7 separate regions of the Homo sapiens genome follow, and regions 1, 2, 3, 4, 5 and 7 are each linked to region 6. The links come from fine-mapping of genetic effects on gene expression. A gene starts in region 6. Each other region holds a variant in brackets. All regions are shown on one strand. Distances are between the middles of the regions. Region 1 overlaps ANO10 (anoctamin 10). Region 2 has its middle 4.0 kb from the start of SNRK-AS1. Region 3 has its middle 24 kb from the start of ANO10. Region 4 has its middle 85 kb from the start of SNRK. Region 5 overlaps ANO10 (anoctamin 10). Region 6 holds the start of ANO10 (anoctamin 10). Region 7 overlaps ANO10 (anoctamin 10).

Region 1 (4,411 bases), 58 kb after region 6:
TCAGGTTTTTCCCCATCTTTGTGGTTTTATCTACTTTTGGTCTTTGATGATGGTGATGTACAGATGGGTTTTTGGTGTGGATGTCCTTTCTGTTTGTTAGTTTTCCTTCTAACAGACAGGACCCTCAGCTTCAGGTCTGTTGGAATACCCTGCCGTGTGAGGTGTCAGTGTACCCCTGCTGGGGGGTGCCTCCCAGTTAGGCTGCTCGGGGGTCAGGGGTCAGGGACCCACTTGAAGAGGCAGTCTGCCCATTCTCATATCTCCAGCTGCGTGCTGGGAGAACCACTGCTCTCTTCCAAGCTGTCAGACAGGGATATTTAAGTCTGCAGAGGTTACTGCTGTCTTTTTGTTTGTCTGTGCCCTGCCCCCAGAGGTGGAGCCTACAGAGGCAGGCAGGCCTCCTTCAGCTGTGGTGGGCTCCACCCAGTTCGAGCTTCCCAGCTGCTTTGTTTACCTAATCAAGCCTGGGCAATGGCGGGCGCCCCTCCCCCAGCCTCGCTGCCGCCTTGCAGTTTGATCTCAGACTGCTGTGCTAGCAATCAGCGAGACTCCGTGGGCGTAGGACCCTCCGAGCCAGGTGCAGGATATAATCTCGTGGTGCGCCATTTTTTAAGCCCGTCGGAAAAGCGCAGTATTCTGGTGGGAGTGACCCGATTTTCCAGGTGCCGTCCGTCACCCCTTTCTTTGACTCAGAAAGGGAACTCCCTGACCCCTTGCGCTTCCCAAGGGAGGCAATGCCTTGCCCTGCTTCGGCTCGCACACGGTGCGCGCACCCACTGACCTGCGTCCACTGTCTGGCACTCCCTAGTGAGATGAACCCGGTACCTCAGATGTAAATGCAGAAATCACCCGTCTTCTGCGTCGCTCAGGCTGGGAGCTGTAGACTGGAGCTGTTCCTATTCGGCCCTCTTGGCTCCTCCCCGCTCCCATTACATTTTTAAATGCTGCATTACAGTTGTAGTAAAGTACTCTAAAGCAGTGCTTAACACTTATCTTTTTTTTTTTTTTTTTTGGCAGTTCAACTTCCTCAATTGCTTTGCCTCACTCTTCTATATTGCCTTTGTCTTGAAAGATATGAAGCTTTTGCGCCAGGTAAGTAAAAATAACAGAAAAATACCAATTTTTTAGGTCATAGAGGTGGTTTTCTATCTTTAGATGCTGTAATTGCCTTCAAATTATTTTTACAAATAAAATCTTTTAAATTTTGTATGTTTTTAAGCCAAATTCTAAATAAAAAATTATTAGGAATGGCATTGTGTATTATGCTCAACTGAAATGAGTTGAACCTAACCAACCTGAAAAATTAAGTATAGGGCAGTAAAATCAATTATATAGTTCACCTCAAAGCTTGTAAGCAACTCTAACAGCAAAAATATAGTATTCATTAACTGAACTGTTTTGTGTGCCTTGGATGGGGATGATTGGTGTAACCTTAGGTCTCGCAAATTTAATTTTTAAGTTAATAAGTTGTTAAACTTTAGAGACCAGTGGATCCTATGCAGTGCTGTATCTTTTCTAAAGTGTCTGACATTTATTTTGGTGTGTTGTCATTTCTGGATCACATAATACCAATGAATAATAAATTAAGAACAAATTATTGATTTCTAAATTCTCCTTTTTATATTTGAACCAGTTATAAGTAAATGGCTGTTTTTTCCCAGTTTTAATATTCTGAGATTGTTGGTGAGCAGTCTCAAAGGCTAGACTCCACTTGTTAAAAATTATTTTTCAAAATAGAGAAAGTTTAAAGTAGTACATTTGGAATTGATGAGTTGGATGTACATGTAACAGTGGTCCCATGTAATAGTGTATTAGTTGGATGTGACTTCTCATTTCTTCTGCTTTAGAGAGTCTCCTTTACTTAGCAGAAGATAGGGGAATGGAGGAGGACCGCTTAAAAAAACAGTTGTAATACCAGCAAAGGTGGGGTGTGATGGAAACATTCATATCTATCTGAGAAAAGTGGAGATTGATACATCTCTGGAAACCAGCTCTCTTGATAGCTTTGCCAAGAAACTTAACTCATCCCTAGTAAATCTTCAGAGAGGAGCAAAGATTCATGTACATAGATATCCAAGCACCAGCATTATAATAGCCAAAATTGGGAGTAATAGTTAATTCAACAGCAGTGTACAGGCCAAGTAAAAAAGAATTTTTAATGATACGGGAAAATGCTCAAACATATTAAGTGAGAAAAGCAGTAAACAAAGTGTATCCATATAGGATAATTATAGTTTTATTTTTATATATGATTGGAAAGAAATATCCCAAGAAGTAGCAGTGGTTTTGTCATGGTTGTGTAATTATGGGTGGCTCTTTTTTTCTATTTTTTTTTTAATAATACATACATAGTTGTACATTTTTATGGGGTACATATGCTGTTTTGTTACATTCATAAAATGTGTAATGAAGGCCGGGCATAATGGCTCATACCTGTAATCCCAGCACTTTAGGAGGCTGAGGCAGGCAGATTGCTTGAGCCCAGGAGTTCAAGACCAACCTGGGCAACGTGGCAAAATCCTGTCTCTACCAAATATACAAAAAGTTACCTGGGTGTGGTAGCACTTGCCTGTAGTCTCAGCTACCTGGGAGACTGAGGTGGGAGGAT[T/C]GTCTGAGCCTGGGAGCTCCAGGCTGCAGTGAACTGTGATCACGCCACTGCACTGCAAAGTGAGACCGTGTCTCAAAAAAAAAAATGTGTAATGATCAATCAAGGTATTTAGAGTATCTATCATCTCGAGTATTTATCATTTCTATATGTTGGGAGCATACAATACATTATTGTTAACCATAATCACCCTACTCTGCTCTCATATGTTAGAACTTATTTCTTCTCTCTAATTGTATGTTTGTACCTCTCGATCAGCTTCTCTTTATCCTCCTCTCCCCAACACACACCCACCCAGCCTCTGGTAACCGTCGTCCCACTCTATCTCTATGAGATCAACTTTTTTAGCTCCCAAGTGTGAGTGGGAGCCTGTGATATTTGTCTTTCTGTGCCCGGCTTATTTCACTTAACATAATGACCTCCAGTTCCATCCGTGTTGCTGCAATTGACAGAATTTCAGTCTTTTTTATGGCCAACTAGTATTCCATTGTGTATATATACCACATTTTCCTTATCTATTCATCTGTTGATAGACACTGAGGTTGATTCTGTTTCTTTATTGTTACAAATAGTGCTGCAGTAAACATGGGGGTGCAGGTGTCCGTTTGATATGCTCATTTCTTTTCCTTTGGATAAATACCCAGTAGTCAGAATGCTGGATTCTATGGTTGTTCTATTTTCAGGTTTTTTTTTAGATGTCTCAAAAAAAAAAAAAAAAAAACCTCTCGCCATACTCTTTTATATAATGTCTGTATCAATTTCCATTTCTACCAACAACAGTGTATAAGAGTTCCCTTTGTTGCACGTTCTTGTCAGCATCTGGATTTTTTGGGTCTTTTTAATAATAGCAATTCTATTTGGAGTAGGATGATATCTCATTGTGGCTTTGATTTGCATGTCCCTGATGATGAGTGGTGTTGAGTATTTTTTCATATACCTGTGGCTATGTAAATGTCTTCTTTAGAGAAATGTCTATTCATGTCTTTTGCCTACTTTAATGGGATTATTTGTATTTTTGGTATTGTTTGAGTTCCTTGTATATTCTGGTATTCTAGGTATTAGTTCCTTGTCAGATGAGTAGTCTGCAGATCTTTTCTCCCATTCAACAGATTGTCTCTTCACTGTGTTGTTTCCTTTGCTGTGCAGAAACTTTTTTCTTTAATATAGTCACAGTTGTCTATTTTTGGTTTTGTTGCCTGTGCTTTTTAGGTCCTAGCCATAAAATGGTGGGAACTTTGCTTAGACCAATGTCCTGTAGTATTTCCCCTATGTTTTCTTCTAGTAGTTTTATAGTTTTGGGTCTTATGTTTAGATCTTTAATCCATTTTGAGTTGACTTTTGTTTGTGGTGATAGAGAGGGGTCTAGTTTCATTCTTCTGCATATAGATACCTGGTTTTCCCAGCACCATTTATTGAAGAGGGTGTTTTTTCTCCAATATACATTCTTCTTTTTTTTTTTTAGATGGAGTCTCACTCTGTTGCCCAGGCTGGAGTGCAGTGGCACAGCCTTGGCTCACTGCAGCCTCTACCTCCTAGGTTCAAGCGTTTCTTGTACCTCAGCCTCCCAAGTAGCTGGGATTACAGATGTGCGCCACCACGCCTGGCTAATTTTTGTATTTTTAGTAGAGGTGGGGTTTCACCATGTTGGCCAGGCTGGTCTCAAACTTCTTTTTTTTTTTTTTTTGTTTGAGACAGAGCCTCGTTCTGCCGCCCAGGCTGGAGTGCAGTGGCGCGATCTTGGCTTACTGCAAGCTCCGCCTCCTGGGTTCACGCCATTCTCCTGCCTCAGCTTCCTGAGTAGCTGGG
Region 2 (4,411 bases), 270 kb after region 6:
ATGTCTTCTTTCAAGATGTGTCTGTTCATGTCCTTTGCCCACATTTTAATGGGGTTGCTTTCTTCTTATACATTTAAGTTCCTTATAGATGCTGGATATTAGACCTTTGTCAGATGCATAGTTTGCAAAAATTTTCTCCCATTCTGTAGGTTGTCTGTTTACTCTGTTGGCAGTTTCTTCTGCTGTGCAGAAGCTCATTAGTTTAATTAGATCCCATTTGTCCATTTTTGTTTTTGTTGCAATTGCTTTTGGCATTTTTGTCATGGAATCTTTGCCCATTCCTGTGTCCAGAATGGTATTGCCTATGTTGTCTTCCAGGTTTTTTATAGTTTTGGGTTTTACATTGAAGTCTCTTACCTGTCTTGAGTTGATTTTTGTATATGATGTAAGGAAGGGGTCCAGTTTCAGTTTGCATATCGCTAACCAGTTACCCCAGTACCATTTATTGAATAGGGGGTCCGTTCCCATTGTTTGTTTTTGTCAGCTTTGTCAAAGATCAGATGGTTGTAGGTGTGCAGACTTATTTCTCGGCTCTCTATTCTGTTCCATTGGTCTGTGTGTCTGTTTTCATACCAGTACCATGCTGTCTTGGTTACTGTGGCCTTGTAATATAGTTTGAAAGCAGGTAGCATGATGCCTCCAGCATTGTTCTTTTTGCTTAGAATTGCCTTGGCTATTCAGGCTCTTTTTTGGTTCCATGAGAATTTCAAAATAGTTTTTTCTAGTTCTGTTTAGAAGGTCATTGGTATTTTGATAGGAATAGCATTGAACCTGTAAATTGCATTGGACAGTATGGCCATTTTAATGATATTGATTCTTCCTATCTATGAGCATGAAATGTTTTTCCACTTGTTGGTGTTATCTCAGATTTCTTTGAGCAGTGTTTTGTTTGTTTGTTTGTTTGTTTGTTTCAGAAGGAGTCTCACTCTGTCGCCCAGGCTGGAGTGCAGTGGTGCAATCTCGGCTCACTGCAACCTCTGAGCAGTATTTTGTAGTTCTCATTGTAGAGATGGTTCACCTTCCTGGTCAGCTGTATTCCTAGATATTTTATTCTTTTTGTGGCAGTTGTGAATGGGATTGCCTTCCTGATTCAGCTCTTGGCTTGACTATTCTTGATGTATAGGAATGCTAGTGATTTTTGTACATCAATTTTGTTTCCTGAGACTGCCAAAGTTGTTTATCAGCTGAAGGAGCTTTTGGGCTGAGACTACGGGGTTTTCTAGATATAGAATCATGTGTCTGCAAACAGGATAGTTTGACTTCCTCTCTTCTTATTTGGATGCCCTTTATTTCTTTCTCTTGCCAGGACTTGCCCTGGCCAGGACCTCTAATACTATGTTGAATAGGAGTGGTGAGAGAGGACATCTTTGTCTTGTGCCAGTTTTCAAGGGAAATGCTCCAGCTTTTGTCCATTCAGTATGATGTGGCTATGGGTTGGTCACAGATGGCTCTTATTATTATTATCATTATTTTTTAGATAGAGTCTCATTCTGTTGCCCAGGCTGGAGTGCAATGGCACGATCTCCACTCACTGCAGCCTCTGCCTCCCAGGTTCAAGCAATTCTTCTGCCTCAGCCTCCCTCCCGGGTAGCTGGGACTACAGGCACGTGCCACCAAACCCAGCTAATTTTTGTATTTTTAGTAGAGACGGGGTTTCACCATGTTGGCCAGGCTGGTCTTGAACTCCTGACCTCATGATCCGCCAACCGTGGCCTCCCGAAGTTCTGGGATTACAGGCATGAGCCACCATGCCCGGCCAGATGACTCTGATTATTTTGAGGTATGTTCCTTCGATACCTAGTTTATTGAGAGAGTTGAACATGAAAGCATGTTGAATTTTGTTGAAAGCCTTTTCTGCATCTATTGAGATAATCATGTGGTCTCTGTCTTTATTTCTGCTTATGTGATGAGTCACATTTATTGAGTTGCATATGTTGAACCAACCTTGAATTCTGGGGATGAAGCCTACTTGATCATGGTGGATAAGCTTTTTGATGTGCTGCTGGATTTGGCTTGCCAGCATTTTGTTGAGGATTTTTGCATCAATGTTCATCAAGGATATTGGCCTGAAGTTTTCTTGAGTCTCTGCTAGTTTTTGTTATCAGGATGATGCTGGCCTCAAAGAATGAGCTAGGAAGGAGTCCTTCCTCCTCAATTTTTAAGAATAGTTTTAGTAAGAATGGTGCCAGCTCATCTTTGTACATCTGCTAGAATTTGGCTGTGAATCTGTCTGGTCCTGAGCTTTTTGGGGGTGGTAGGCTATTTATTACTGATTCAATTTCAGAGCTCATTATTGGTCTGTTCAGGGATTGTTTTTTCCTGGTTCAGTCTCAGGAGGGTGTATGTATGTATTGAGAAATTTATCCATTTCTTCTAGATTTTCTAGTTTGTGTGCATAGAGGTGTTCATAATATTCTCTGATGGTTATCTGCATTTCAGCGGGGTCAGTGGTAATATCCTCTTTGTTGTTTCTAATTATGTGTATTTGGATTGTCTCTCTTTTGCTCTTTATTAGTCTAGCTAGCAGTCTATTTTATTAATGTTTCCAAAGAAACAATGCCTGGATTCGATCTTTTGAATGGTTTTTC[G/A]TGTCTCAATCTCCTTCAGTTCAGCTCTGATTTTGGTTATTTCTTGTCTTCTGGTAGCTTTCTTAATTTCTGCCTAAATTTCATTATTATTTATCCAAAAGTCATTCAGGAGCAGGTTATTTAATTTCCATGTATAATCTTATGGTTTTGAACAATTTTCTTAGTCTTGATTTCTAATTTTATTGCACCATGGTCCAAGAGAGTCATTGGTATGTTTTCACTTCTTTTGCATTTGCTGACGATTGTTTTATGTCCAACTGTGTGATCAATTTTAGAGTATGTGCCATGTGGCAATGAATTTTAAAACAACAGCAGAGCATCAAACTTAGTGTGGGACTCTTCTAAGTGTGGTGCCCCCCAAATGAGTATAAAGGTCACATACACACATGAAGCCAGCTCTGCCAGCAGGACATTGACTCAGTCTTGTTTCCACCTTCATGCTGGTGTTCCCCTTAGTGACTGTTTCTACCAGTGGCCCCACCCTAACCCCCACTCTTTTCATCTTCTAATCCAGAAACCTTGGAGTCCTTGTAAAAGGATAAAGGAATCAAGAAGCAAAATGAATGCTGTCTCAGCAAAGTCCACTGCTACCTCCTGTGGCTCACACAGGGACCTCCAGATGATTGGAGCCCTGCTCACACTCTTCAGTTCTCCACTCTCTGCATTCTTCCTCCCTGCTTCGCCCTTCTTCGAATTCCCTGACCCTGATAGCGGTGCTGTGCAGACACATCACCACCTCTGATCCATCAACTTGTGCTAATTTAAATCACCATTTTCTTCTCCAAGGGCATTATGAACTGGCAAGAACCACGATTCATTTTTTTCTCTTCTGACGACTTGCCAATCTGTAACACCTTGCTCAGAGTGAGGTGTCCAGCAAGTGCTTAGTCCTGGATTCAGACGTCCTGAAAAATATGACTCTCTCCCTGGTAGTCACAATGTCCTTAGGCCCTAATAGCTCAAAAAGGGCTACATCCTATTTCCCCTTCTCATCTGTCTCTCCCCAGATCCCAGAAGTCTGAGAAACCTCGTCCCTGCTGAGCAGCTGTAGGGGGCAGAAGGGCCATGGATTGATAACCACCCGAAGTGTGACATCTCCTGTGTTTGGCCTGTTCAAGGACTAGCAAGGAGGTTATTGCAGCCAGAGCTGAATGAGCAAGTTGAGAGGAGCAGATGTGATAACTGGGGCAGAGGACACACTAGGGCCTTGTGGGCCACCACACAAGGATTAAACTTTTAAATCTGAGATGGAAAGCCATGGAAGGATTTTGAGCAGGGGAGTGACCCACTATTTAGACTGCTGTTTCTGGCCAGGATAGAATTAGAGGAATTTGATTGACCCTCTTGCCTTAAACAACTAGGAAACCAAACAAAATATATGGAGCAATAGTTTCCAGACATTGAGCAACAGACAGCATAGGGCTGTCACCCCGAGAGAAGGGAGGCAAATGAGGTGAGCCCTGAGTTGAATGCCCCAGCTCACTGCCCAAAGGCAGTTGCCAGAACACAGAGAGGGAAAGCCCAAATAGTCTGGTTGAGTTGAGCAGGTAGTTTGAAGTTCAAGATCAATGTGCAGGGCAGAGAGGAGGGAGCTGCACAGATAGTGAGCAAGCTCCAAAAGAAAATCTGTGGTCTTTGGTTGAGTACTGATCAGTACTTATGAGAAAACTACCTGAGGCTGGAGAAAGAACCACTGGAAAGCAGCAGGCTGAACAATGCTCAGAACTTACCCAAGGCTGGTAATAGTTCATGTTCCTACCAGCCAGAGTAGAAAAGCCTCAATAGAGTCCCTAGAGAGGTATTGCCTCAGTAGTGGGCCAAAT
Region 3 (4,411 bases), 24 kb before region 6:
GTTGAGGCCACAGCTATGCTAATCACTGTTCATGTATTTAAACTTGTTTAATCCCTACATAAACCTATGAATTCTGAGCTATTGTTACCCCTTTACAAATGAAGTAACTGAAACCCAGAAAGGTTTAGTCTATCTATGTCACACTACTGTTAAGTGATTGCATCAGAATCCTAAACTCTGCAATCTGTCTCCTTCCAGAGCCCATGGGGATATGGCTGAAAAGTAATTAGAATTAGACAGTAAAAGGATTTGAATACTTCGAATACAGAGTAGTGTAATATGATGGTTAATTTTATGTCTTAACTTCACTGGGTTAAAGGATATCCAGAAAGCTGGTTAAACATTATTTCTGGGTGTGCCTGAGAGGATGTTTCCAGAAGAGATTAACATTTGAATCAGTAGTCTGAGTAGAGAGGAATTTGCTCTCACCAAGGTGTGTGGGCATCACCCAAGCCGTTGAGGGCCTAGAGAGAATAAAACTGTGGGAGGAGGGTGAATTCACTCTCTCTTCTGGAGCTGAGACAGCCATCTTCTGCCCTCGGACATCTAAGCCCCAGGTTCTCAAGCCTTCAGACTCTGGGGCTTATACCAGCGCTCCCCCAACTCCCCAACACACACCACTGGCTTTCCTAATTCTCCAACTTGCAGACAGCAGATCATGAGATTTCTCACCCTCCATAATCATGTGAATCAATTCCCATAATAAATCTCTTATCTATCTATTTATCTATGGGTATAGAATACACACACACACACACACACACACACACACACACACACATATATACACATATCTTTTTGGTTCTGGTTCTTTGAAGAATCCACACTAATACATCCAGTCTTCTGGACTGGACCCATAAATCAAAGGAATCATACTCCAATGGCAGACTTCCAGACCTTAACAGTTGGAAGGTCGAAGAGAATTTTCTTCTTTGGGAAGGGAGGGTGCTTTTCTTTCCCGCTTTTCACAACAAGCCAGTCTTTACCTTCCAGATGTTGTACCCCCACCTTCAGGGATGACTCCATAATACTTGAAAGGGACAGTTTGTGTGACCAGCACAAATTTCTCATTTTAGAACCGAACTAGAAGTAAACAGTCATATGAGTCTATGTAAAGAAAGAAGAGGCCAGGTGTGGTGGCTCACACCTGTAATCCCAGCATTTTGGGAGGCTGAGGCAGGCAGATCACCTGAGGTCAGGAGTTCAAGACCAGCTTGGCCAACATGGTGAAACCTTGTCTCTACTAAAATACAAAAATTAACTGGGCGTGGTGTGGTGGCAGGCACGTGTAATCCCAGCCACTCAGGAGGCTGAGGTGGAAGTTGCAGTGAGTCAGGATTGCACCACTGCACTCCAGCCTGGGCATCAGAGCAAGACTCCGTCTCAAAAACAAACAAACAAAAAGTAGAGACTACTGACTCAGCATGACCATAACCATGGCTCTGTCTTCTAAGGCTCCTTCCACCATAAATTTGTTATCTTAGTTCTCTAACTCAAAGACGAATTCACAATCTCAGCCACACATGCTGTTACAATGAGCATATACAAGGATCAGGACAGGTAGCAGGCAGAAGTGTGCCCTTGGTCTACTCTCCCTCCTCCTCATCATCCCTGCTCAAAATAGGGAAGTGGAAAGAGTCCCCTCTTAGAAGCATGGGAATTAGAACTCCTCGAATCTTTTGTTTTCACATTGTATCAGAGTAAAACAACTAAAATTTACATACTAAAACAAGCTAATCTATAACTTTGAACATGACTCTGCAGAAAAATAAGAAACTTCCCACAGACGTTTTCCACTAGTCAACTAAGCTACTTAAAACAGGTAGAGGCCAGGCGCAGTGGCTCATGCCTGTAATCCCAACACTTTGGGAGACTGAGGCGGGTGGATTGCCTGAGTTTAGGAGTTTGAGACCAGCCTGGGCAACATGGCAAAACCCCTTTTTACCAAAAATACAAAAAATTAGCCAGGTGTGGTGGTGCGTGCCTGCAGTCCCAGTTACTCGGGAGGCTGAGGTAGGAGGATCGCTTGAGCTTGGGAGGTGGAGGCTGCAGTGAGCCCAGATCGTGTCACTGCACTCCAACCTGGGTGACAGACCCCATCTCAAAAAAATAAAAATAAAAAACACCAGGCAGAGATACTTAAATAACTTTGC[C/T]AGAGCCTTTGAAAAGCTAAGTGCAGAGCTATCAGAGTAAATAAATGTGCCCAGGAAATAGCTCTAGGGGCTTGACTGGGAGTAATGGGAGCAGGGTTATTTTTTATTTTATTTTAAGCAAACATAGCACAGCCTGCACATGCACATGTCCGACTTCAAAGCAATCACTTCAGAAAGAATACTAGCTTGAAATATTTTAGAAATGTTTTTAGTGGAATTGTCTTCAGAGGCAGAGAATATTCTCTTTAATATCCCTAGGAGGAGTTCAACCTTAAATTTTTTTTTTTTTTTTTTGAGACGGAGTCTCACTCTGTCGCCAGGCTGGAGTGCAGTGGCACGATCTCAGCTCACTACAACCTCTGCCTCCTGAGTTCAAGCGAGTCTCCTGCCTCAGTCTCCTGAGTAGCTGGGATTACAGGCACCTACTACCATGCCTAGCTAATTTTTGTATTTTTAGTAGAGGTGGGGTTTCACCATGTTGGCCAGGATGGTCTCAATCTCTTGACCTTGTGCTCCGCCCACCTCAGCCTCCCAAAGTGCTGGGATTTCAACCTTAAATCTTTGAGATGCGTTTGCTTTCTGAAGCCAACCACAAATTAGACCAGAGCCTTGCATAGTGAATAAGGAGGATAATCAAGATAAATAATGAATAATCAAGTTGAATCACTGAAGATCTCTAAATGAGATGTGGCCTCCTTGACTGTTTATTGGCTTTGTAAATTTTTAAATTTAGGATTGGTGGAGTACAGCCATATTGCCTACCTTTTTGACAGATGGATTGGTATGTATTTGTGATGTCGTTGGTATCAGCCAGGTTCTGGCAGGACACAGGCTGCACACTCAATGAACAAGAAGGCATACCTGAAAAGGGTTCAAGAGGGCCTCTTTACAGAGGTGCAGACAGGTTGAGGAAGCAACTGAGGGCAGTGAAACACCCAGGGTGCCAGCACCAATGGGAAGGTGTTACCGCCCAGGCCTGAAGGGCAAGTGGGAGGAAGGGCCTATCAGAAGTCAGCAAGAGCTGCAACCAGAAGGGTGGCTGACCCATTGAAGAGGTGGTTATGGAGAGCACACTGCAGCACCTGCCAAAGGGAATCCAGTTTCTCTTATCTTGTGCTCAGATCTCCTGGCAGTGTGACAGTCCCCCATCAGAGTAAACCCAATCAAAAGCCAGGGGCAAGGCTACTGAGTGATGTCATCCACAGAGGTGAGCCTTGTGGAGGAGAGCAGGCCAGGTAGGCCAGATCTTGGATCTGGAGAGGCCAGTGGAGGACAGCACAGACACACTGTGCGTGCATTGTTCCTCTCTGTTCCAGGGAGGGAGGGAGCAGTTCTACTCTATGGCAGAGTAACCAAGTCTACTCCTTGATCTCATTTCTCACCCTCCCACCCCCATGTTTGCTTCTTTGTCTCTGTGTGCTGCATTACAGCAAGTTAAAGTCTAAAACTAAATCAAGTTATTTCCTGAGGAAAAACTGGGCTTTTAAATACATAGTGTTGGGACAAATAGAAAGCCACCTGAAAAAGGATGGAGTGAATCTAAACCTCACACTAAAATAAATCCCAAATGGACCAGAGATCCAAATATACAATGTGCAATCAAGGAGGTTTGGCACAGGTGAATTACTTTATAACCTGGGGACACGGAAAGCCTTTTCAACATTCAGCAAAAACAAACAAACAAACAAACAAACAAAAAAATCAGGGAAAGATTGGTGAACTTTACTACCTAAAACAAACAAAATACAAGAAGCAAGGTCAAAAAACAAATGACAGACCAGGAGAGACCAATTTCAAGTTATCTCAGCGGTGGCTCACGCATGTAATCCCAGCACTTTGGGAGATCAAGGCGGGCGGATCATGAGGTTAGGAGATTGAGACCATCCTGGCTAACACAGTGAAACCCCGTCTCTACTAAAAATACAAAAAAATTAGCTGGGCGTGGTGGCGGGTGCCTGTAGTCCGAGCTACTCAGGAGGCTGAGGCAGGAGAATGGTGTGAACCCAGGAGGCAGAGCTTGCAGTGAGCCGAGATTGCGCCACTGCACTCCAGCCTAGGCGACAGAGCGAGACTCCATCTAAAAAAAAAAAAAAAAAAAGAAAAGATGAGGACAAGTACATGAAAAGCTTTTAACAATGGATAAGCTCCAAAATTGCATAAAAATATGGGCAAAAGTCATGAAAAGAGAGAAATGTGAGAACAGAGCGAAAAGAAATGCAAGTCACTCCCTACACATATGAAATGACGCCCAATTTCCC
Region 4 (4,411 bases), 420 kb after region 6:
AACAGATTTTTAAAAATGTCATGACATCAGAGAGAGATCACAGAAGAAAGACAAAAGCTTTACATTTTAGTGCTTTTAACAACACTTTCCCCCCCTTTTTTGAGCAAGGGTCCTACTTTTTTATTTTGTACTGGGCCTTGCCAATTATGTAGCAAGCCCTGCTCGCAGGCTAACTCCCTTCATGCCACTTCTCTTGAGCCTCTTGTTCAGCCTTGTTTCTCTTACAGCTTGGGCAGGGTCTGGGAGGCAGAAAGAGAATTGTTGAGGTATTTTTCAGCTGGGGTTTGACTTCCAAGGGGAAGTCAGGACTCTTTCCCCAAATAGTTTTTTGAGGCCTCATGGTGACCTGTGAACCGTACCACCCCTAGCTGAGAAAATGACAGTAGTACTCACTCTTCAGCAACCAAAATCTCTAGTTCAGTGTTTGCCGGATGTCAGGCCTGAAAGGAAATTTCAGCCAGAGGAGGAAAGGAGGAATGATAGCGAAGACCCACATTTTGCGAGGGGTCACTGCCAGCCAGAACTCAGACCTGAGGACCAGCTTGGTGCCTTGTTTAGAATGGCAAGAGTGGAGCAGGGTTGTCATTTCTCTTCCTGGGATCAAAATCAGACAAATCTCCTATTTGGCTTACCAGGCAATAAGTGGATAACGCCAGTGAATGTCAGTGCAAATTACAGCTCTGGCCTCCTGTCGTCAGCTTTGTGCTGCTTCTTGTCACTTTAATGCAAAGAGACAGCATGGAGCTGATAACAAACCAGAAGGGTGGGGGATCGGAGGGGGTAGCTGTGTCAGGGACAAGAAATACATGTCAGAGAGAATGATTCAAGACAGTAAAAACCCACACTGATGCTTTTTCTTGTTTGCCTGTTTAAGGGGTTGGGTGCAGACAATACCTCTTGAATATCCAAAACTAAGCAGCTACCTCATCTATTCATCCACCCAAGCATCCACCCACCCACCCATCCTCCTCTGTAAATGAGGGCTGGACTGAGCCTCTTGGTACACTGGAATTCTTTTTTTTTTTTTTTTTTTTTTTTTCCAGACAGAATCTTGCTCTGTCGCCCAGGCTGGAGTGCAGTGGCATGATCTTGGCTCACTACAACCTCCACCTCCTGAGTTCAAGCAATTCTTGCACCTCAGCTTCCCAAGTAGCTGGGATTACAGGCATGTGCCACCACACCTGGCCAATTTTTGTATTTTTTAGTAGAGATAGGGTTTCACCGTGTTGCCCAGGCAGGTCTCAAACTCCTGCCTCAAGTGATCCAACCACCTCAGCCTCCCAAAGTGCTGGGATTACAGGCATGACCCACCATGCCCGGCTTGTACACTGGAATTCTGAGGGACTCCTGCATCCACCATCTGTTGAGCACAGCCACTTTGCCACTGTTGAATTTAAGTAGAGGTTTGAAAAACTCTTAGGAGGAAACATTTCTCTTCCTAGCAAAAAACAAGAGCTTTGGGGAATTTTCGTCAAAATCAGCCCAATGACTGCTCAAAAGCTTTGGTTTTACTCTATTAAATTACATTTTTCTTAAACTGCTGGGCGAATGTTACTGTCTCAGAGACCCCCTCAACTGACAGATAAGATCTCCCTTCTAGCCACCTGAAGAAAGAGCGAGTCTTGCATTTTACATGCCAAGATTTGAGTGTGTCCATCTGTCTTGGAGCCTGCAAGGGTCAGCTTACAAAAATATGCAGCCTCACTCTATCTTCCACCCACGTTACAAGTTTGAGGAACGGGT[A/T]CAGTCAAGGCAACAAGAATCCAGGTCTTTCTATAGTTGTGCTTGCTAGCAAATTAGTGTCTGAGAATTTGGAAACAGTACCAAGAGGATAACTATAAGGAGACATACCTTATATATCTTCTTAGGTTCCCTCTATGGCTTCGTACCCTCTTCTGGATAGTGCCCATTCACTCCCGGATGCCCTCCACTTTTGGACTGGGTGAAACACCTCACCATGGGGCATGGGATCTGGTTTCTTGGGCAGTCATCAGGGACTGGATAATGCAAGGTTAGTAACTATTCAGGAAGTGGACATTGACCTAGGAGATAGAAGACAGATGGGCGCAGGGCAGATAACTTCCCCCATCCTACTCTGTCTTGTGGGTGCCTCTGCATCATTAATCCTTCCTGCAGCCTTTTCAGAGAACTCTTTATACTAAGTAAACATGCAACCTGGTGTCCCATCCAAGCTTATGGTGGGTGAAATAGGTCATCACAGTAGTGCATTGCATTACTTCTCATGACTTCTCTTCCCTCATTTTCTGCCCCCTCATCTCCATTGCTCTGGGCTTGCAACTTCTAAGCAAATTAGAACCTCAATCCTTGCTCAGTTTCTGCTTTCTGAAGGACCTAGACCAAGGCAGGAAATAATATTTGTTCAGCACCTGCCAAGTGCCCACAGGTGCTTGTGATATATTCAAACTGATTATGGAACTTGGAAAGCTCATTCAGAAGAGCAAGAAACATGTCCCCAGGGCACCTAGGAAATCAGCAGCAGAATGGGAGTAGAATTGTTAAAACAGGACTGAAACATGGCTGATGAGAAAAAGAAGGAAAAGAGGGAGGAGCAGAATGGAGATTGGGTGTCATCAGGTCTTTGGGTGCCAAATGAACAAAGAGGGCTTTTGTATTGAGACTTTCAGGTTAAATCCCAGGCATCCAAGTTGGTGACCAAGTTAGGAAAGATTTCTGTTTTGGGGATTCAGCTTATACAACACTTTTGTGTTTTCTTTGTGGCAGAAGTTTTTAAAGAATGAGGAAGGGTAAGCTTTCAGTACCGGTATATTAGTTATCTATTATTGCCTGACAAATTATTCCACAACTCAGTGGTTTAAAATAACAATAATCAGCTGGGCGTGGTGGCTCATGCCTATAATCTCAGCACTTTGGGAGGCCAAGGCGAGCAGATCACTTGAGGCCAGGAGTTCAAAAGCAGCCTGGCCAACATGGTGAAACCCCATCTCTACCAAAAATACAAAAATTAGCCAGGTGTTGTGGTGCGTGCCTGTAATCCCAGCTACTTGGGAGGTTGAGGCACAAGAATCGTTTGAACCCAGGAGGCGGAGGTTGCAGCGAGCCGAGATTGCACCACTGCACTCCAGCCTGGGTGACAACGTGAGACTGTCTCTAAAAAATAAAAATAAATAAATAAATAAAAGAACAGTAATCAATTATTGTCTCTCAAAGTGTCTGTGGGTCAGGAATTCAGGGGTGGTGTGGCTGGGAGGTTGTGGCTATGGTCTCTCATGCGGTTAAAGTCAAATGTTTGCTGAGATTACAGCCAATTGAAGGCTGACTGAAGCAAGAGGATCCATTTCCAAGATAGTTCACTATTAGCACGAGACCTTAATTACTTTCTTCAAGAGCCTCTCCCTGTGGTGGCTTGAGTGTTCTCATGACGTAGTGGCTGGCATCCCCTAGAGCAAACAATCCAAAAGACCAAAGCAGAAGCTGCCGTGCCCTTTATGGCTTACCTTCAGAAGCCACTCACCGTTCTCTTCACCATACTCTATCGGTCACACAGAAAGCCCAAGTTCAATTCAGGAAGAGTATGGCCACCAGGAGGTAAGTGAGGATCCTGCCCGGAGGAGCAGCATTTTTGGAGACTGGACCACAACCAGCATCCTGGAACATGAGAGCTGGGAGAGTTCTTAGAGGTAATCTGTTTCAATATTCTTATTTAGTAGCTGAAAAACCCAAAGATCAGAGAGGTTAAACAACTTGCTCCAGGTCGCTTAGTGAATCATCTGTTCACACTTAATTCAGGATTCAACAGTGCCTGCAGGAAGCCCATTTTATGAGGCCATATGAGAGCTGGACCTCATGGTCAAACAGCATCACTATGCTGATGAAGAAGGAAGGAAGAAGTCAGGCGTGATGCATTAAACAAGAGTTGCCAAATGAATACACTGCAAAGCTGATTATAGAAGTCCATTCATATATTCAAGATATATTTATGGAGTGCTTACTTCATATTTGGCATTGGCTGGGCACTGGTACAGAGGTAGGCAAAAACATGCTCTTGCTCTCTTAGACCTTGTGGTGTAGTGGGGAAAACAGACATGAGTTGCATAGTTCCACAGATAATGGAAGTACTATGACTATGACAAGTGCTTTGAAGAGGAGGCTGAAGACTGTGACAGCCCAGAATATTAGGTTTGTTCCAGCCAGCGAGGCTTCTCCAAGGAAGTGATGATTCAATTATCACTTGACAGCCTGAAAATGAGTTCTAGTATCAATGAGATAATGATTTTTGTTCAAGTTTTGTTTTTTTTAAGATATTATATTCTCCACCTCCAAAAGTTCCATTTGAGTTTTCTTTTATATCTTCTACTTCTCTCAGAATTGAGTTTGTGTTTTCCTTGAGTATCCTTTCATATATTTATGAGATTTATAATAGCTATTTTAA
Region 5 (4,411 bases), 180 kb after region 6:
CATGTGACTGTATTACCTTCAAACTATAGTTCAAAAAGATATAGGTATATACATTTTTTAATAATAAATTCAGAATAGCTAGGATAAATCGCTTTTGCTGTTGTTAAACCTTAAAAATTATTTTTATCTACCTATGAATATTCATCTTCCCTCGAGTGTTTTCGGTATGGCAAGTTCTGAGTTGTTAAAATTGATTGTTATTGTCACTTTGTAACTGAGAGGGTCTCCCTAGTGAAAACCTGACTTTCTCAAAGAAGTAGTTCAAATTTCTCCTTACTTTTCTGACAGTAGTGTGCCTCAAGCATATCTTAAGAACATAACAAGTAATAAACCATAAACCAGTATTTTCTTCAAGAAAATATATCAGCGGAGAACAGAAAATGTTATCTTTGAAAAAAATATGCAGTTATAAAAAGTTGTAACTCTTTTTTGTTACAAACTCTCTGTTCAATTGTATGAAGTTGCTCTCTCTCAGAGCAAAGACTTGCCAGTTGGCTTTACTTCTTTCATCCCCTTTCTTCTATATCCACTGCCTCTGTACATTTTTCCCACTTCCCTTGCTCTGACAAAGATATCAAAGGTTACATTAAAGCAAAACCTGAGAAGCTTGAGTTATTGCTGATAAGTTCAACAAGGAGTAAATTTAAATGCAATCTGAGAAGTAGAAGATGGGAAGCATTCCTTCCTGAATCCACATGCTCTGTTAGGCCCTAAGGCACAATAAAATGTGGGACATGAACCCTGGGCCCCGAAGCTGATGACAGTGGAGGTCACAAAGTGATCACCCACTCTAAGAATTCTACACACAGTGATATCTATACGTTTCTCTCTCCGCCAGGCTTCTTGTCTTTACTCTCATCAGTGTTTGGACAGCTCCTGACAGAACAAAGGCTGGGTTTGGTGTTCTGTAATCCCAGCTCTTTGGGAGGCTGTGGGAAGATTGCTTGAGCTCAGGAGTTCAAGACCAGCCTGGGCAACATGGCAAAACCCCGTCTCTACAAAAAATACAAATATTAGCTGGGTATGGTGGTGCACACCTGTAGTCCCAGCTACTCTGGAGGCTGAGGTGGGAAGATCACTTGAGCTCGGCAAGCAGAGGTTGTAGTGAGCTGAGATAGTGCCACTACACAGCCTGGGTGACAGAGTGAGACCCCGTCTCAAAAACAAAAAATACAAAAAAAAAATGCATTGCCTGTGTTGTAGGCAATGATATTTCTAATGTAAGGAAACATGGTCATAGATTTGGGAGATGTAGGTCATTTTCAGGATATTCACCCTTAACCTGAGAACTGGTTTAGCAGATTTTGCTGAGTTGTTTTTAGATGGTTTGTTTGGAATCCTAGTTTAATTATTCATTGTTTTACCTGTGATTTTGGGATAAATATATATGATAAAGTAAAAGTCTTTTTAAAATAAAGTTTTTAATTTTAAGATAGTTTTAGATTACAGAAAAGTTAACAAGCTAGAACTGATAGTTCCCATATACACCATAGCTAGTTTCCCCTACTTTTAACATCTAACACTGGTATGGTACACTTGTTATAATTAGTGAACAACTATTAATATTATTAACTAAAGTTCATGCTTTATTCAGATTTCCTTAGTTTTTATCTGATAAGACTCATCTTGTATATTTCCTGCTGCGGTCCTAGACTCAGCCATTTTTCCAAGGAGCTCTGGTTCCTTTGTTTTGGACAATGGTATTAGAAACCAAGATCTGTGTGCATCTCTTAACTTTTTTTTTTTTTTTTTTTTTT[G/TG]AGGCAAAGTCTCACTCTGTAGCCCAGGCTGGAGTGCAGTGGTGCAATCTCAGCTCACTGCAAGCTCCTCCTCCCGGGTTCATGCCATTTTCCTGCCTCAGCCCACGGAGTAGCTGGGACTATAGGCACCTGTCACCAGGCCTGGCTAATTTTTTGTATTTTTAGTAGAGACGGGGTTTCACCGTGTTAGCCAGGATGGTCTCGATCTCCTGACCTAGTGATCCGCCCGCCTTGGCCTCCCAGCATCTCTTAACTTTTAACCTGAATCCCTCTATTTAAGATGGATTTCTTGCAGTTAACATAGTTGAGCCTTGCTTTTTATTCTAACTCTGACATATATTTAGGCCACCTGGAGTGTCCTGCACCCTGCCGTCCTCGCCATGACTGTGTCAGGTGACCACAGGAGGTCGATTGTGTGTTCTCCTTGCACTGTTGTAGAGCCACCCACTTTCCTGTGGCCCCTGCGGTACCACATCTGCCTTATAGCTAACAGTTTAAGGTTTACAAGTGTGTATTTCTCTATTGTGACTTAAATTCTCACTTGATACAATTAAAGTAAATGAAGTAAGTATATAGTAGAATGAAATCATAATCTTAAGATATCACTTTGCTTTGTAGGCCTTAGTTAGAGAATATTTCTGGGCACACAGTTTTTATATGTTCCTTGGTTTTTTTACTTGTCAAGTGATCAAAATAATTGTTGAAAAAACAAAGCAAGCTCCAAATCACACATAACCCTCTTACAGATTTTATTTCCTTTCACCATCATCAGATCTGCTCTAGAAACTGCTTTGTGCATGAAATGTGGCTCTGAATGAGAGGAAAACAAACTTTAACACATGTAAATTGCTTTAAGCTGTATAAGATGTGTTCTTTGGTGACACAGGGCATGCCAAAGCCTTGAAAGCCAGCTTTCTCACCCTAGGGACAAATGACAACCCCATCATTCAGTGTCCCTCAACTACAACAAGCCTCTTGATTAGCAGGTCCCTACAATGGAGATTATATTTTAAGAGAGAAGAGCCAATGAGACACATGATTTAATTTGTCTGTAACCCTTTAGATTATTTTCTTGCATTAATTTGGTCTAATTGATATTTCCCCCAATCACCTTTTCTATTAAATGATGAAATAGAGAAGGATCCGGGTGCAGTGACTCATGCCTGTAATCCCAGCACTTTGGGAGGCCGAGGCAGGTGGATCACTTGAGGTCAGGAGTTCGAGACCCGCCTGGCCAACATGGTGAAACCCGTCTCTACTAAAAATACAAAAAAATTAGCCAGGCGTGGTGGTGCATGCCTGTAATCCCAGCTACTCAGGAGGCTGAGGCAGGAGAATCGTTGGAACCTGGAAGGTGGAGGTTGCAGTGAGCCGAGACTGTGCCATTGCACTCCAGCCTGGGCAACAAGAGTGAAACTCCGTCAAAAAAAAAAAAAAAAAAAAGAAGGAAGGAAGTAAAATACTTTTCATGCTTTCATACTGAGCAGTTCTCCCTCTCTCATTGTTTTGACTCTTCTAACATATTCCCTTTTTTCCCTGTATACTTCTTTTAGATTCCAGCTATTAATATTTATTGAGACTCAGAAACCAATACCCCCAAATACTGCACTTTGACATGCTGAACTGAAAAGGGAGCCTCAAGGTCTCCCTGATCTCCCCCATACTGTCTCTCCCAAAGCATTAGATTCTCTAAAGTTCCCTTGTCTGCCTAAAGTCCAGACCTACCAAAGAAGAAAACAATTAACTGCTGGTCACTTCCCTGAGTTCTCATTAACTGAATCCATATCACATCTTTTCTCCTGTTAATCTGCTTTTTGTGAGTTGTTTTTTCAGCAAAGCTTCAAGGGTTTGCTGTACATCTTTTAAGACCAACTCCTTGTTCACTCGACTGATCTTGGAAAGTCACCCATGCAGGCAGCCCAGAGGCCTAGGCCTTTTGTGATATTAGTGGTTCCCTGTCATTCCCTGTGTGGATCCTCAGCACACTAGGAATGGAGCTTGGTTGGAGTGGAGCAAGGTGAGCTGGGTCATAGACACAGCCCTGCCCTGAAGACGTCTTCTCAGGGTGACCACCAGGGCATAGGGCCTGAAGACACTGCCAGAGAATTCCTTTTAAACTCCAGAGAAGAGTCCTAGTCATTATGTTATTGAGGCACACATTTTGTGATGCTTTCTCATCTTTTAACAAATTCATATGAGTTAATTAACTGATTAAATAGAGTTTTCAGTCTTTCTATACAATCTATACCAAAGGATGGCAAACCCCAGCCAAAGGACCAAATCCTCCTGCCGCCTATTATTAAAGTTATATTGGCACCCAGCTGCACCCATTTGTTTATATATTCTGCTTTTCATGTTGCAAGGAATGGCAGAGTTGAGTAATTGTGACAGAGACTGTGTGGCTAAAATATTTATTCCGTGGCCTTTTAAGAAGTTTGCTGACCCTGTTGGAGATTAAGAATCTTTTGTGTTAGAAACTGCATTGAATCTATAGATCACTTTGGGTGATATACACGTTTTAACAATATTAAGTGTTCTAATACAGCACATGAACACAGAATGTCTTTTCATTTATTTGTGTCTTATTCAATTTCTTGTGGCAATGTTTTGTGGTCTCAGTGTACACGCTTTTCATCTCCTTGGTTACATTTATC
Region 6 (4,411 bases):
GCCCCACCCCCAATACTGGAGATTACAATTCAGCATGAGATTTAAGTGAGGACACAGATCCAAACTATATCAATGCTACATACCTTTTGGTCACTTAGCAGCCATCTAGGCTATCAGGTCGAAAAAACATAATATATACAGGGTTCAGTACTATCTGTGGTTTCAGGCATCCAGTGGGGGTATTGAAATGTGGCTAAGGGGGACTACTATATAGGGATCTATGTCATTAACTCAGGTTTGCCATTTATGCTGTCCAACAATTTGCTATACTTAACAGAAAGTTTTAATTTGTTAATTGTGGAGATGAAATAAGATTATACAAGAGAAAATGACTTTTATATTTCCATTCATTTTTCTTCCTAATTCCTCCAGCCACATAAATATAAGAAAATGAAATTATATGGAGGATGGCCGTGCGTTCTAGGATGAGAAGATAAGAAGAGTACAATTTAAAAACAAAAGTCTAAGGAGTAATTCATGTCTAAACTTATTGAAGTTCATAAATAATTTGTCCTGATTTTCAGAAGAAAGAGAGAACTTCTGAACATAACCACACAGGACCTACAAAAAGATAGCTGCACAAAAACTGGTTAATAATGTTGTGAGCTGCCATGATAGCATCGGAGGACTAGAAAGAATGACAAACTGCTCCTACCAAGTAACGAGTCTTCTGCTCCTTTCTTTTAGTTTCCCTGCCTCCTGCCTGGAACCTGGAAGACCCAGAGAAGGGTGGGGAGTAAAGAACAGACCAGCCTTCTCCGCACTGCAGTTTGTTGAGGCATTGATCTGGCCAAAGCTGGATGTATGGAGGCAGAAAGTGTTCATTCATTTTTTAAATTTTTCATTTCAGAATTATTGCTTGTCTGCTATGGACCTAACACTGTTCTAAACATTGGGGCTGGTAATCCTCCATTATCTGTGGGAGATACATTCCAAGATCCACAGTGGATGCTTGAAACTGAGGATAGTATAAAACTCTATGTATACTATGTTTTTTCCTACACATACATACATACTATGATAAAGTTTCATTTATAAATTAGGTACAGTAAGGGATTAACAACAATGAATAATAATAAAATAGAACAATTATAAAAATAGACTGTAATAAAAGGTGAATATGGTCTCTCTCTCTCTCTCCAAATATCTTATTGTTCTGGCCTCACCTATTTTCAGACTGTGGTAGACCCTGGGTAACTAAAAACACTTAAAGCCGGCAGGGCGCGGTGGCTCACGCCTGTAATCCCAGCACTTTGGGAAACCGAGGCAGGCGGATCACCTGAGGTCAGGAGTTCTAGACCAGCCTGGCCAACATAGTGAAACCCTGTCTCTACAAAAAATACAAAAATTAGCTGGGCATGATGGTGCGCGCCTGTAATCCCAGCTACTCAGGAGGCTGAGGCAGGAGAATCGCTTGAACCCGGGAGGCGGAGGTTGCAGTGAGCCGAGACTGCGCCACTGCACTCCAGCCTGGGTGACATTGCGAGGCTCTATCTCAAAACAACAACAACAAAAAGTCAAAAAGTGTGGTGGACAGAAGAAATAGGAGAGCAGGTAAGGAAATGGTGGGGTGAGGAGCAGATGAGAACAGGTATTAAGTAGGATGGTCAGAAAGGGCCTCAGGGAGAAAGTGAGAGCCCAGCAAACACTGAGGGAGGTGAGGAAGTGAGCCAAGCAGCCAACCGAGGGAAGAGCTTTCTGGGCAGAAGGAATGGCTGGGGCAGACTCTGAGCCTGGAGGTGGAAAGGTGTCTGGCGATTTCTAGGAGGAGCAAGGGTTTTGGGATTTGGCTGTGGTTGGATGTTAGGTTTTAATTATAAAAGGATCTGCGTTTTTCACAACTTGAAAGTGAGCTACAGTTAAAATGAGACTTGTTCTTATACCTGAAAGTGACCAGAAAATTAGGTTCTGGTCTTTAAGAGATGGAAGAGGGAAATGTGAAGGGGCGTATTCCTTTCCCCTGCCCCGACCGCTCGCGGTTGGAGAGCCCAGCCACATGCCGCCCCGGCTCGGAGTGACAGCCCAACCAGGCCTCTGCCTTCTCGGCCGCGCCTCTCCCGCTGCCGTCCGGATTTCGATGGGTGGTACAGTACGTTAGGCACGCCCCTCCCTTTCTCCCGGCCTGGTCTCCTGTTCCAGGCGACAGCCCAATGAGGGCTGCCTTTTTTTCTTCGGACCGGTTCCAGTCTAGGTTCTCGTCCACTACGATCGCCCAGTGAGGCCCCGCCCCTCCCACCGCAGTTCCGCCCCTCCCGGAGCTACCGCCCAGTGAGGCCCCGCCTCTCCCGCCGCGGCCCCGCCCCCCTGCGTGTGACCGCATCTAGGCCCCGCCGCGTCCGCCACGCCCAGCGCTCGGCGGCGCCCGCCCCACTGGCCTGGCCCGCCCCCCGCACCGAGCACTCTTTCGCCCGGCCTCCGGTTCTCGCCGGCTCTCGGACCCGCCTCCGAAGACGTGGAGCGCTGCGGCGGCTGGTGAGTCGGGGAGGGCACCTCGGACCCCCCAGCTGTCCGCAGCAGAGCCCGGCCCCTTGCAGCCACAGAGCCCCGGCCGCTGCAGGCTCCAGGAGCTCCGCCTGGTCGCCGCCCTGCGTTCCCGGGCCGCCTCCCGGTGCCAGCACCCCTGGGGATGGGAAGTGGGACCAGGATGGGCGCGGGGGCTGTGGGGGCAGGGACGAGTGAAGGTGTTGCGGGGAGCGGCGGTCGCAGGGGAGGGGAGAGGTTTGTGGAGGGGATTATGGGTCTGGGGCGAGGGTTTGAGTCCTGAGAGAAAGGCGGTGAGGCGGAAATTTGGGGCTGGTGAAGTCAGGATGGAGGATGTTGGGGGCCTCAGCGCTTTGGGGAAGGAGGCAGTGAGTGGGGTGGTCGGCGGAGCGGAGTGAAGGGTGGTTTTTAGAAGGGTCAGCTCGCGGGTCCCGGGGTTCTTGCTTCCCGGGCAGTCCGGGGATCAGGGCGGACTAGGCTGTCTCCAAGCAGGTTTGGCCGGAGCGGGCTTGCAGGATAATGCTCACATCGAGGTGACTGAGTTTCCAGGCTTTTGACTGGGACATACTGTACAGTTTAAATAATAGATACCTGTCTGGCTAGTGCCTGGGACACCTGAGAAACGTGGATGGAATGGGGTTCTCCCCTATAGGCAGCGTCTGATTTTGTGGGTGCCTTCACAGCACCAGCATTGGTGTGCGCTGCCTTCTGTAAAACCTTATATTCCAGCAGGACGGTGTATGGAGATCCCAGACTTAAAAAGTGCAGCTGAGGTTTATTCAGACTCAAGACACAGTTGTATCATATTGCCTTAAATCCTGCGGAGTTTAAATCTAATCCTGTGGGGTTTAAAGCGGTTAAATCCACTTTGTAGTGTCTACTTTTAATTTAAAGTCATACAAATCTAGAGGACTAGATGTTTTCTAAGGGCCCATTCTGCATGATAAACAGTTTAAAATTCGCTATGGAAAGTAAATCATCTGTTCTGAACAGCTGTTGCTGAAAGAATCGTAGAGTTGCAGATGAATGAAATTTGAAAGATCTAAAATAATGGAAGGGCATAGAAAAGTCTTGATAAATTGAAGTGTGTAAATGCACTTAAACCCACTGAAACTTTTTTCTTTTTGTTTTTTTTGAGACGGAGTCTTGCTCTGTCGCTCAGGCTGGAGTGCAGTGGCACAATGTCTGCTCACTGCAACCTCCGCCTCTCGGGTTCAAGCGATTCTCCCGAGTAGCTGGGATTATAGGCGCCTGCCACCATGCCCGGCTAATTTTTGTGTTTTTAGTAGAGATGGGGTTCCACCATGTTGGCCAGGCTGGTCTTGAACTCCTGACCTCAGGTAATCCTCCCACCTCGGCCTCCCAAAGTGCTGGGATTACAGACGTGAGCCACTGTGCTGGCCAACTTTTTTCATTGTAGACAACTTGGAAGACAGAGAAAATTATAAGGATGAAAATTAAAATCTGTAGTTTTGCCACATGTAATAACATTTTGATGCATTTCTTCCTAATTTTTGTATTTTTGTGTATATGAATGTACACAAAATTAGGGTAGTATTGTTACCTAATTGGGGTAATATTGTTATATTACTTCATACTTTTGCTTTTTCTTTCCACCTTACATTTTCTCACTTAGCATTTTTGTGGATCAAATTCTTCTTAAACATCTTTGAAAATGCTTGTATAATCATTCATCATGTGGATTCATTCTTTTTTTAAATATTAGAGTTTTAGTTATGTGCCTAGTACTGTGCTTGGAGGTGAAAAATCAGTGTTCCTCAAATGGATATATTTGTCATGGCTTGCATGAGAGCTGTACTAAGCCTTTTTCTCATCTGTCAGTTAAATTGTCTCTAGCCTTCTGTTTTTATAAGCAGTAAACCTTTGTTTTAATGGTTAAAAGCTCACAATAAATCTCATGTCATGTGTG
Region 7 (4,411 bases), 200 kb after region 6:
AACTCTGTAAGATATTTAAAGAGGTTTATTCTAAGCCAATATGAGTGACCATAGTCCCAGGGAACAGTCTCGAGGTCCTGAGAAAGTGCCCAAGGCAGTCACGTTACAGTTTGGTTTCATTATGCATTTTAGGGAGACAGAAGTTACAGAGAAAGACATAAATAAATACATGTGAGGTATACATTGATGCGATGTGAAAGGTGTGGAGGCGGGGGAGGGATGGGCTTACAGGTCATAGGTGGATTCAAATTGGCAATTGGTTGAAAGAGTCAAGCTTTGTCTAAAGACCTGGAGGCAGTAGAAGGAAATGCCTGAGTTAAGATAAAGGGGTTTGTGGAAGCCAAGGTTCTTGTTGGGTAGATGGTAGCACCCTTCAGAGGGGATACATGGTAAATGTTTCTTCAGACCTTAAGAGGTATCAGACTCTTGGTTCATCTCTCCTAGATCCAGGAAAGGACTGGCTGTATTAATGGATATTCTCTACAGACGCAGATTTCCCCCACAAGAGATAGTATTGTGGAACCATTTCAAAATACGTCAAAGAAATATATTGTGGGGTAAAATATTTGATTTCCTTTGGGGTCTGCTATCTGTCATGTGATGCTGTACTGCAGCCAGGTTGCAATTTGTTATCTTACTGCCACAAAGGGTCTGTTTTGACAGTCTAATGATCTCTATTTTAATGTTAATGCTGGTGGTAGTCATTTGTACCTAAACTCCAAAAGGGAGAATGTATAATGAGGCCTGCCAACCTCCCTGTCATGGCTGAGAATTCAGCTTTCCAGGATTCTCTGAGGTCCCTTTGGCCCAGGGGAGGGGGTCCGTTCTGTTAGTTGAGCAGCTTAGGATTTTATTTTTGGTTTATATTTAAGTATTCAGTGTTAAATTAGGTTAAATATTAACCTAATTTAATAGGTTTTTTTCAACATTTCGTAAGAACTTCTGAACTTCTTCCCCCCGCTCCATTTGTGCTCTCAAGTTAAGGTAAATAGAGGCTGGGCACAGTGGCTCATGTCTGTAATCCTAGCACTTTAGGAGACCAAGGCAGACAGATAGCTTGAGACCAGCCTGGGCAACATGGCAAGACCTCATCTCTATTTAAAAAAAAAAAAAAAAAAAAAGTTACAGTAAATACATAAGCATTTTTAATGGAAACTGTAAAATTTTACAGCCTAGAATTAAGGTGCTAAAGTATTTGACTATTGAATAGGTAATCACATATTAATCTGCTAACATCTAGTTCAGAATGAAATGTTAAATCCAAATACAGAATTAGCCTCTAACAAAGCCAATAGCCACAGTCCTTAGGAAGGGGTGGTCTACTTCCTGGGGCCCCAAGTCAGGTCTAGGCCCAGTAAAAAGTACCAAAGTTTATGGTATATCTATCATTTGGGTGGCCTGTCTGAGCCTGCCTCTCCCTTTCTTCTTTCACTGGAAGGTTTGTCTTCCAGCCCTGTCACCACCCAAAGGGTTCATTTCGCCCGCTGCCCAGATAGAGCCAATTTATCAAGACAGGAGAATTGCACTAGAGAACTAGTTTAATTCATGCAGAGCAGGTTGAACATGAGAGCAGTTTTATTATTACTCAAATCAGTCTCCCCAAAAATTCAGACTAGAGTTTTTCAAGGATAGTTTGGTGGGTAGGGGGCCAGGGAATGGGGAGTACCGACTAATTGGATCAGAGGTGAAATCACAGTGAGTCAAAGCTGTCTTCTTCAGCTGAGTCAGTTCCTGGGTGAGGGCCACAGGACTGGTTGGTGAATCTGGTGGAGCCATCAGTCCTCAGAAATGCAAAAACTGGAAAAGAGATTTTAAAAGACCGATCTTAGATTCTACATGTTATCTGCAGGAGTAACTGGGGAAGTTGCAAGTCTTGTGGCTAATTTGTTAGTTTTATAAAGGTGGTCTGGCTCCCAGGCAAGAAAGGAGTTTGTTTCAGGAAAGGACTGTTAATCATCTTTGTTTCAAAGTTAAACTATAAACTAAGTTTCTTCCAAAGTTAGTTCGGCCTTTGCCTAGGAATGAGCAAGGGCAGCTAGCTTAGAGGTTGGAAGCAAGATGGAGTTGGTTAGATCAGATCCCTTTCAGTGTCATAACTTTCTCACTGCAACGATTTTTGCAAAGGAGGTTTCAGCCCTGTGTAGCTGCAGAGAAGTGACTTGACCTTCCTGTATTAGAGTCCCCCCAACACTCAAATGGGGCAAAGTCAGAATGAGGCTGGAATGAGGCAATGTGAGTAAGACCCATTATGGAGCAGTGTGTTGGGGGAATGAGGATGATGAGGGAGGAGGAGGACCAACTCATGCATT[C/T]GCTGGGTGAACCCAGCAAGGAATTCTAGGATAAAATGGTACCGTAACATCAGATTTGCCTGGAGAGTCAGAATTCTACCTTTGTGGCAATCCCACCTATTTTCATGACCTAACACAGCTGGGCTGTAATAACAATGAGGTAGTAACAGCTGACATGTAGTGTGTGAGAACATGAGCCAGGCACTGTTCTAAACCTTTTGCATGTGCCAGTGTCTCTTCAGAACAGCTCTCCACGGTAGGGTCTGTTAGCCATTTGCAGGTAATTTTTTGCACAGTAAATTTCTCTCCAATTGATAAAATGATAACCTCCTTTAAAGATGATTAATGCACAAATAAATACTGGCTCCTTTGCACCTTTTGGGTCTAGCAAGATTCCCAAGCACTCCTACTTTGTAACTCTGACCACCAGTATACCTGCCCTCTGCAGTCAGCTTCACAGACCCCACCTCCTGGAGAAAGCCTTCTTCCCATTGTGTAACAGGAGCCTGGTGCCCATTTCTGTTCATTTGCCCCACTATAGTTTGTTCTGTTTCAGTCTCCCTTGTGAGCTGCGAGGTCCCCGAGGGCCAGGTGATGACTCACTCACTGCTGAGTCCCCTCACCCAGCATAGGGCCTGGCGCCCAATAGACTCTGAATAAATATCCACTTAATCAAACTGAGTTTGTTGACTCACATGTAATTCACAAGCCAATATATTAAATAAATAAGGACAAATGATGTCCTTGGACAAAAAAAAGAGTCTTAAAATAGATACTCTGGCAGAAATGGAAACAGGTCATGTGCCTTTCTGGGATCACTGGGGAAGAGAATGCATTCTGAAGAATTGTATGTGGACACTTTAGAAGGACCACATACCTTGCCTTGATAAAGCTCAAATCCTTTTTTTTTTTTTTCCAAAAAAAATCTGACTGTGATTGACATCAGTAACAAGAGTAGCTCCCCAAGATTGTAAAATAACCCCAAATCACGCAAGAAAGAATTCTAAAATAGTTTGTACTTTGCACTTGTACTTGTTAGCTAGAAAACTAATTCAGGCTCTGGAGCAATCCTCCTTTTATCACTGATGGGTAGACTTTTTCCTCCTGTATTTTATGTTTTCACTAGAGAAAAATTTCTTTAAAGTGCACAGAGGCATCCAGACAGTAAAATAAAACTACAGCTCTTCTGATCGTTGTCTTCCTCAGTAAACAATGTATGTAAGTGACTACTTATCTCATTGGTTTGCTAAGCAAACTGTAAAATTTATATATCTTAATATTCCCCGTAGATGTGAGAAACATGGCCAAATCATAGGCAGATTTATTTTTTCTTATGAAAACTACTGAATAGGCTGTGAAATGGAATAAAATTTACCATTTTTCAAGTCACCCCATTGATAGATTGGAAGCAATGTGGTAAGAGGGGGCCTGGAGGCACAGGTCCATTCCACAGAGAAAGGCCTTGGGGCCACTATGCTGTAGAAGTGATGGCTGTGTGCTTGGGACCATTTTCACAGATGTCATTCAAATGTATTTGCATTGGTAAAGAAAAAACTTGCCTCATAATAAATTCTAGAGATATCAGAATGCTTAAAACTATATTTAAAAACAACAAAAAAGGGTGGGCGCGGTGGCTAACACCTGTAATCCCAGCACTTTGGGAGGCTGAGGCAGGCGGACCACAAGGTCAGGAGTTTGAGACCAGCCTGACCAACATGGTGAAACCCCGTCTCTACTGAAAATACAAAAATTAGCCGGGCATGGTGGCACGCACCTGTAATCCCAGCTACTCAGGAGGCTGAGGCAGGAGAGTCGCTTGAACCCGTGAGGCAGAGGTTGCAATGAGCTGAGATCTCACCACTGCACTCCAGCCTGGGCGACAGAGCGAGACTCCATCTCAAAAAACAACAATAGCAACAACAACAAAAAAGATGTATTCTTTTTTAAAGTTAGAGTTCCAATCTCATATTCTGTATTAGATTAATAATTGCATTGCCATGATGGTCAACATATGGGAGAGCAGCTCTTCTTTTGCAGGTAAATGCCTAGGATTGGCTTATGTATCCATTTATTTACTTTTTATTAAATATTTTAGGAAATTAAAAGATTATACTGTTAGATGA

What was found. PIP is the estimated chance that this variant, and not a neighbour inherited with it, causes the effect.
Region 1: its variant is fine-mapped to the expression of ANO10 in whole blood (TOPMed, PIP above 0.99).
Region 2: its variant is fine-mapped to the expression of ANO10 in whole blood (INTERVAL, PIP above 0.99).
Region 3: its variant is fine-mapped to the expression of ANO10 in whole blood (INTERVAL, PIP above 0.99).
Region 4: its variant is fine-mapped to the expression of ANO10 in whole blood (INTERVAL, PIP 0.98).
Region 5: its variant is fine-mapped to the expression of ANO10 in whole blood (INTERVAL, PIP above 0.99).
Region 7: its variant is fine-mapped to the expression of ANO10 in whole blood (TOPMed, PIP 0.99).

What each region holds. Positions count from the first base shown.
Region 1 is chr3:43,562,334-43,566,744 of GRCh38, reverse strand. It overlaps ANO10 (anoctamin 10), which reads left to right. Exons shown (of 13, transcript NM_018075.5): 8 at 1,018-1,092. Among named protein-coding and RNA genes, the nearest start is that of ANO10, 57 kb to the left of the region's middle. RefSeq lists an enhancer at 487-1,209. The variant T/C (reference allele first, on the strand shown) is at 2,609.
Region 2 is chr3:43,353,748-43,358,158 of GRCh38, reverse strand. No RefSeq gene overlaps it. Among named protein-coding and RNA genes, the nearest start is that of SNRK-AS1, 4.0 kb to the right of the region's middle. The variant G/A (reference allele first, on the strand shown) is at 2,589.
Region 3 is chr3:43,643,524-43,647,934 of GRCh38, reverse strand. It overlaps a transcript of ANO10 not described here. Among named protein-coding and RNA genes, the nearest start is that of ANO10, 24 kb to the right of the region's middle. The variant C/T (reference allele first, on the strand shown) is at 2,154.
Region 4 is chr3:43,199,544-43,203,954 of GRCh38, reverse strand. No RefSeq gene overlaps it. Among named protein-coding and RNA genes, the nearest start is that of SNRK, 85 kb to the left of the region's middle. The variant A/T (reference allele first, on the strand shown) is at 1,744.
Region 5 is chr3:43,442,469-43,446,879 of GRCh38, reverse strand. All of the region lies in intron 11 of ANO10 (anoctamin 10), which reads left to right. Among named protein-coding and RNA genes, the nearest start is that of SNRK-AS1, 93 kb to the right of the region's middle. The variant G/TG (reference allele first, on the strand shown) is at 1,758.
Region 6 is chr3:43,619,970-43,624,380 of GRCh38, reverse strand. ANO10 (anoctamin 10) reads left to right here and starts at 2,370. Exons shown (of 13, transcript NM_018075.5): 1 at 2,370-2,472. RefSeq lists enhancers at 796-1,448, 1,449-2,101 and a silencer at 2,157-2,656.
Region 7 is chr3:43,421,911-43,426,321 of GRCh38, reverse strand. The region is part of intron 12 of ANO10 (anoctamin 10); the gene reads left to right. Among named protein-coding and RNA genes, the nearest start is that of SNRK-AS1, 72 kb to the right of the region's middle. The variant C/T (reference allele first, on the strand shown) is at 2,310.